2 linked regions of the Homo sapiens genome follow. The protein of the gene in region 1 purifies or fractionates together with the protein of each later gene. This does not show direct contact. Each region holds a gene or a part of one and is shown on either strand. Other genes may lie near its edges. The genes, in order: LRTM2 and TBC1D15.

The links.
Region 2: the proteins of LRTM2 (region 1) and TBC1D15 purify together in Homo sapiens (affinity purification with mass spectrometry; one large-scale study listed by BioGRID and IntAct). This does not show direct contact.

What each region holds. Positions count from the first base shown.
Region 1 is NC_000012.12:1,826,784-1,830,600, forward strand, and holds part of LRTM2 (leucine-rich repeat and transmembrane domain-containing protein 2 precursor), read left to right. Parts: intron 1-623; exon of another isoform or gene 624-626; 5' UTR 627-811; exon of another isoform or gene 812-1,194; coding exon of another isoform or gene 1,195-1,365; coding exon 1,366-1,432; intron 1,433-3,817.
Region 2 is NC_000012.12:71,912,515-71,916,331, forward strand, and holds part of TBC1D15 (TBC1 domain family member 15), read left to right. Parts: intron 1-565; exon of another isoform or gene 566-618; intron 619-1,311; coding exon 1,312-1,412; intron 1,413-3,817. UniProt on the Homo sapiens protein: Acts as a GTPase activating protein for RAB7A. Does not act on RAB4, RAB5 or RAB6.

The sequences.
Region 1 (3,817 bases):
AGGGGACCAGAGGGGAGAAGATGGGGGCAACAGGGTTTGCAGCAGGACCCTAATGCCCGAGGGGAAACCTGCACAGACAGGCCAAGATTCTGGGCTCAGCACTGAAGCTTCTCGGCAGCTCCATCCACCTCTGGGCCTGTCTTTTTCACTCTGATATTGTCTCCTGGGCTCCCAGAATTCCATAGGCCCATGGGGGCAGGGAGAGGGAGGCTGCAACCAGGAATTACCCAGGGACAAATCTGGCAACCAAGGAAGGTCAGAGGCTGGGAGCCGCCTGGAGCAGTGGGCTGACGCAGGGAGCCCGTGGAGGGCGAAGGAGAGGGGTGCGGGCATCCTCCCTCCCTCCCTGCCCATCCCCGCCCTTGCCAGCTGCAGCAGGTAAACACATGCCAGTCCCCTGTCCCCCTCTCTGATGGGCTGGCAGCCTGGGCCTCCCATCTGGAAGGAAGTGGAGACCCCAGCACACAGCCTGTGTCCCAGTTGGGAGACACTGGGGGGGGCAGACCCTAGAAAGGGTAAGTGCCCCCTTGTCCCCCGCGAAGGAAGCCTGCTCCTGCGCCCTGGCTGCCTCAGCGCCCCTACTCTGCGTTCTCACCTCTCCTTGTGTCCCTGTCTCTTCCTAGCAGCTGCCGCAGCATGAACCCCTGAGCTGATGAGTCTTATTATAGCCCGGCTGGCGGAAGACAGAGTGCTGCTATTCACCTCTGCGTGGGCGTCGGTGGTGCAGGGGGAAGCAGCAGGCCATCCAGCGGCTCACACCCTACGCGGCTGCAGCTGCCAAGGGCCTGGCCCCTGCCTCCCTCGGGCCATGGTGAGCTGTGGCGGGGCTAGAGGAACCGGGACCCAGGTGAGGGGAGCCTCCAGGGACAGGTGACAGTTGTGGCCTGTGACCTCACTCTGCTCACCTCGGAGAGATGACCTCAGTTTCTCCACCCATAACTCAAGGAATGCCCAGATGGGAGACCAGGTTGCCATGAAAACATCTGAGTGATCAACATACTCGGGAGGCAACAAGAAGGCAGATGAGGCTGGGTAGGCCCATGGGTGCACCCCCAGCTTTGCGGCACTGTGCCCGACCCTCGGGCTCCTGGAAAGCCGAAGCCTGCCCCGCCCCCATCCCAGGGGCTTGAAGGCTTCCTGGCTCCTCTTCTTCCCCCACCCAGGGAATCATAACTGAGAGGAACAGGAGAGGGCATGAGGAGTGTAAAGAGACACCCGGGCCCTCTCCCTAACCCCTGGGCTGGAACGGGGCTCCCGCGCCTGCCTGTGCTCAGTGCTCCTCCCTCCCTCAGGACTGACAGGCGGCGCACCCAGGGGCTCCTCTCTCCCCAGAGCGACAGGGCCCGGAGAGCCGTGGGCCTCACCATGCTGGCGCCGGGCAGCAGCCCTGGGCAGAGGGGCAGGCTCGCCCTGCAGTGGAGGCAAGTCTCCTGTGAGTACACCCCTGGCCTCGGAGGGGGGTGCGGGTTGGGTGGGGGTGCCGAGGTGACTGTAGGTAGCGCCATATGGGACCTTAGCCACACTCAGGCTGCAGGGAGGCCTACGCCAGATCTTCCTGGGGTACCCGAGGCTATGTTCTGGGAAGCCAGGGTCACGCCCACGGTGACAGCATCCCTGCCAGTCAGAGTCACCGCTGAGTGCTGAGTGGTTAGACCTGGAGCTGGAGGCCACGACAGTTGTTCTACCTCCCCCAGGTAAGTCTCTGTGAGCTTGCTGGGGTCCCCAACAGGAGAAGAGCTCTGCTGGAATGCAGGCCTGCTGAGTCTTAAACAGCCTCACTGGTGCCTGAGCTTGTCGGCCTGTGTCACAGACTGCGGCGAGCCCTTTTGCTCCCGTGGGGAACTGCCCCCTTGGCTGGCCTCGGCCAGGAGCTGGGTCAGCTTGGAGATGTCTCTTATGCTCCTTATGCCTCCGCTTTCCCAACTCTCGGTAGAGGACCTAGTGGGCTCGTGGGATGCGGCGCTGGAAGAGACTTTGGGGAGTGGGTCCAACCCCTCCTGCATATAGGCAGACTGAGCCGTCCATTTACCAAAAAGGGGAGGAAGCGTGAATGAAGGCAACACTTGGCAGCTGTCAGGGTGAAAGGAGCCCTGAGAATTCTCTTTATATGTGGCAAAGGGACCAGGTCAGCAAGGGCTGGTCTGCCCAAGGCTACACGGTGGCAGGGAGGAAACGGTCCCGCGGGACGGCATTCCGCCTGACTTCCCGCTCTGATCCAGCACCCAACACGGGCAGCCTGAATTATTCACCATGTGAGAGAGGCTGGCCCCTGAGTGACTCAGATCTCCTTTCAGCCTCATTCTAGAATCACTCAACACCTCGCAATACGGGCTTATGTTTTCTTGTCACTGGAGCTTTTATGCCACCTTGATCTCCAGGGAGGTGGGGGGCGCAGGGAGTCGCTCTTCCGCAGCGGCTCTCTTAGCCTGCTGTCAGGCCCTTCTCTGGGAGGGGCGAGCGGCTTCTGGTGATGCAGATCCTTTTGAGAGGGAGCTGAATGCGTTGGATTTTATTTCCTGGGGAAAGTCAAGTCTGAAGAATGCTGATTTTCAAATGGCTTGGGGTGGTGGTATGGGGCTGGCTGATCTGGTAGCAGACGGGCTCAGAGGGGTGAGAGGGTGAGCGGAGACATGAGGTAACCCAAGATGGCCAGAAAAAGGGTCTCCGGTGGCTTCCATGGCTGTACCTGTGCTCACTTCTCGCCAAGAACAGTGAGGCTTGCTGTTAGGCTGCAGGGAGGCCTGGGCCAGATCTAGCCACGTGTCAGCTCTCAGCTGTCATCGATCCTCCAGGCAGGGAAGGGGAGAGTCTCATCCTGTTCCTTCAAGCTCCACCCTTTGGGACAGCAGACACCCAGACCCCTACTGGACAAGACTCAAGGCTGTTCAGACCCAGCTCACAGCCCATCGGCCCACCCCGACCTGGGACAGCCAGGTCCCAGGTCCCATGTCAGGGTGGGCCGATGGGCTGTGAGCTGGGTCTGAACTTCTCCATCAGTTCTCTGGCTGGGGTCTTTTCTCTAGGCTGGGTGGAACTGACCTCGGCTGGGCTGACCTGGTGGGGCTGAACTATTTTGAATTCTTCCCAGTTCTCTTTCACGATGAGCAGGCTTCTCTGCTACTCAGGAGGACACTTAGGGGTTTTTGAGGCCACTATTGGAAAGGGCTGCTGCATAATGGAAGGCACTGCTCTGATGTGATTGTTCCCTGAGGGTTACTTCTCCCAGCCCTACAGACAGGACCCCATGCTCGCTACGCAGAAGGGTCTTGGGCAAAAGATGGGACCAGGAAACGAATTCTATTCATCGGGCCATTGTGCAGGAATGCTGCCCTGTAGCCCCTAGGAACAGAAGCCCAGGCTGAGAGCCTAGATGGCTTTAGGGTGGGGGTTAAAGTGGAATGTGTCCTGGGCCCCATGACTTGTCAATGTTGAAGTGGGTTTGTACATCTTAGCCTGTCACTCCCACAGTGGGACCCTAGGTGCACAGCCTGGGCTCTAAATCCTCATGCCAAACTGCTGGCGTCATCATGGGTGTGGGATTGATGGAAACATAACAGCACTTGGGACGCCGTGAAGGACAGGGCTAGGAGTGCTGTTTTGTGCTCTCGCCTTTCCATACACAGCTCCAGAGTTGGGGTGGGCCACAGAGGGGAGGGAGCCAGCAGCCTGGCCATTTTCCCTGGGAAACAAACTCTGTCCCAGCAGTGACACTGGGAGAGGGCATGGGAGCAGGTTTCTCTGACAACCTTATCTCCTTTCTTGTGTCAACATCCATGGTGTCAGTGGGACCCAAACTCCCCGGGAGATGACTGTGGGA
Region 2 (3,817 bases), about 70 Mb from region 1:
GATCTGAGTGCTTCTGTCTGTTGTGTGTTTGATCTGAGTTTTCTCAAGAGATTTAGTTTACCTGCTTTCTGAGATCATTTTTTAAAGTTTTCCTCCAAAACAGAGTAATGTGTAATTATGTATCATTTATATGATAGCAGAACTATCTCCTCCCTCTTTCATTAAATATTTACTTTTACATGGCTTCAGTGCAGATAGATTTTGGTGAATAAAAATGTAAACTTTGGATTCGCAAATGAAAGACTATTTTCCAGACTTCCCAAGCTACCAATAAAGAAATTTCTACATGATTTTAATAAATACACAAAAGTTACCGAAGTTGAATGATAACGTTTAAGTAAAAAGGCTTAGTATAAGTTCGTGTCCCTTCATTGGTTCAAGAACCTCTTAAGTCTGAAAATTTTTCAAGTCTTGAAAATTGTAAAACAAGGATAATTGAGGGTTTTATAAGAGGAAGTAAAAAAGAAGTTTGACATGTTCAGGTGAAAAAGTAAAACTAACACTTTTTCTTATTTTTAAGTGAGGGATCTGACTCCTTAATTTTCTAGTTTTTCTTTTAATCAAGGGCTCTATTACTGTCACCATTGAGAAATTGTAATAATATCAAGAGACATGTAGGTAAGTGGTCACTTTAGGTACAAAATATTGATTGGGTTAAGCCCAGTTGCTGGCATTGGTTGGGTGTAGAGAGTAACAAAAAAAGAAAGAAGGACGTAGATATGACTATTTAAAAGAGGCTCTTAATTTTGTAACTCCTGTTATGTGAATCTAAAGGTCTGATTGTTAAAGCAGTTGAACCCAAAGTTCTTGTTTTATGTGGCTTACTCATGGTAGTTTGGCATTGCTAACCACTCTGGGCTTGCAACTTTCTTGTTAATTTTTGCAACATTATTCTCGCTTGATTTTTTTCTTTACTTCTCTGACTGGTCTTTCTTAAACCTGTCTTTGAGTGTATACTCTTACATTTGATGTTCCTCTGGATTATCTCTTCACCCCTCTTCTTTCTCATGATGCTCTTGCACATTATTTTTAAAAATATTACCCACTCTTGATAGTGTATCTGCACTGAGACACGTACTGGAAGCTATATATTGTTTGACATCTCAATCTAAAACAACTCATCTTTCTTACTTATGACTAGAGTTCCTCCTCTTCATTTATATTCTTTTCTTGGTGAACATCAGTGTCTACCAATTTCTAAATGCAAAGGAGAAAGATACAATTTTAAGCGAAATGGTGGTGATATGCACAACTTGCAGAAGGTTACATAAAACTTGGGTTTTCAGAGATGATTTTTTCTTTTCTTTTTAGGATATGTTCAAGGAATGAGTGATTTACTTTCCCCTCTTTTATATGTGATGGAAAATGAAGTGGATGCCTTTTGGTGCTTTGCCTCTTACATGGACCAAATGGTAAGAACAGAGATTCCTTCCATTAAACTGATTTTTAAAATTTTAGTTGTATAATTTTATAGTATAAGGTTGATTTTTATATTTAGCCAACTATGATGGAACTTAAAAAAATTACCTCATGCCTTTTGTTACTTTTTCTTTTTAGTAGCCTTTCAAGGGCTTAGAAATACTGGTGGTATTTTTAATACAGGAAATAGTTTGTGCCTGTAGTATAGGAATAATCAGGATTTAATATCAGTAAATGCTTATTTTCTACTAAAGAGCCATGTGTCATTACAGAATATTGATAAAATAGATGAATTCAATTTTGTGGAATAGTTGAACTTTAATATCATCTGTTTCAGAGATAAAGCTTAGTCATGCCAAGTAATATCCTTACCTTTTGTGAAGATTTTGAATTTTGTCATTATAGTAACTGATTTTTCTCCAGATGTGTTTGAACTATTTGTAACTCTGACACTTTCTTAGGAATTCATTGTTATTTTCCCAGAAGTATGTGATTATTAGAATTGAACTGTCTATATATACATGTTAGTACAAAGAACATTTTATCTATTATCATTGTTAAATCTTTGAGACAGAGTTCTAGGATAATAGTGCAGAGAATATTGACAGGAAAATAAAAGAAAAGTCTCTTCAAGCAATCTCAGAAAAATAAAAGCAGAAGGGGTGAGACTAGATAAAGGCAGATGAAGTCCAAAGACCTGACTACATAGAGGTTGCTGTGTTTTTTCAAAATAACACTAACATACTGGATGCTGGGCCTTTATGTTGGATATTGAAATGGCTGGCTTGCTTGCAAGGGATAAACATTTTGAATCTAACCATCTGAAATATTTTCCTGTAATACAGGGTTTAACTCAGAGTTTCTGGGATACAAATGTGAAATTTGGAAGTGGTACCCTTCTCCTTTTTTCTTTACTTCTATTCTTTCCCTTTTGCTTGCCTATTTTTCTTTCTCCTTCAAATTTTCCCTGCTTGTGGCTATTTCCCCAAATCTCTTGTCCATAGATTCAACTTGTTTTTGCTTCTTTCAGTTTTTTTCTAAATGTATACTTGGTAAGATTTGATAGATTTAAAATGTTCTTTTACATTAAATTCATGAATATTCAAATTGGTTTTTTGCCATAAATTAATTTTTTTTGACTATTTGGAAGGATTATCAATGCAGTAATTTGGTAATGTCATAGTTTGTCTTCCTTCCTTTTTTGATTGATTTGTCTACCTTCTTAGTTCCATTTACTCCCAAGTGCTCTAGAAACCTGAGGCATTTGTTATAAAGGTCTGTACAGCTGATACTAATTACATAAAAACTGTTGTCTGCCTTCCTTGTGTTTTTGTTGTTTATCCTCTTTTCACCAGAGCTAGTATGTTCCTTGATAAAAGGGATTATATCTTGTTTCACTGGTAGCATACCAGAATTTTCCTAATGCCTGACATGAGGTTGTTCAACGGGTTTTTGTAGAATAAACATGTGAATCTTTCCCCAGTGATTAGTTTAAATTGCTATAGTAGATATTCTAAAAAAAAAAAAAAAAACACAACTAAGATGAACATACTGCATTTAGTATCATGCAATAAGTTTTCAATAAAACTAATCCAATATTGGCATGTAAATATATATTGACATATAATGCCACATACACACATGCATACAGACGTGTGTATATAGGTCTCATATGTAAAGACTACCTTCTGAACATGTGTAATAAACACTTTACAGTCCGTCATTTTTTGTGTATGAAGGTTCAGTTTCTTTGTTCTGTCATTTTCACAGTAAATGCTCTCTGTGTTTGCCTTTTCCATTAAGGATGTTCTGGGGATTTTTCTAGTCTTTATTCTAAAAAAGATATCTTATGATTATGTTGTCTGCTAACATCTTTTCTTTCATAATATTTGAATGAGAGGGAAATATATGGCAATCAAAATAACCTGTATGATTGTTTTTCACTGCATTGCCCTTGTTTGATGTCCCTAAATCTGTGCTGCTGTTTCTTGATTCTGTGTTTCTGTTTTATAGCTTTACTTCATGTAAGTTTGTACTACCTTTGTGGTGGCTGAACCTAACGTCTGTAAATTTACTTTTGTTGATGTTTACTTGCATCTAATGTAGGTCTAGGCATAGACTTTGTCTATTATCATGGAAATACAAAGTACAAGTGATCTGATGAACTTTGTTATACCCATCATCCATTTTGCCATATAGTTTTAATTCCTTTCTCCTCTCCATCTCCCCCTCCCCTGCCCCATACAGACACATTTATTTACAGACACATTTGAAGCCCTTTGTATATCCATTGTTGATCCCACTCTCCCTTCTCCAGGAGTAACCACTTTTTCGAATATGGTGTCTGTCATTATGGACATGTTTCTTTTTTACAGCAGAGTGGGTAGCAAATGTCTAT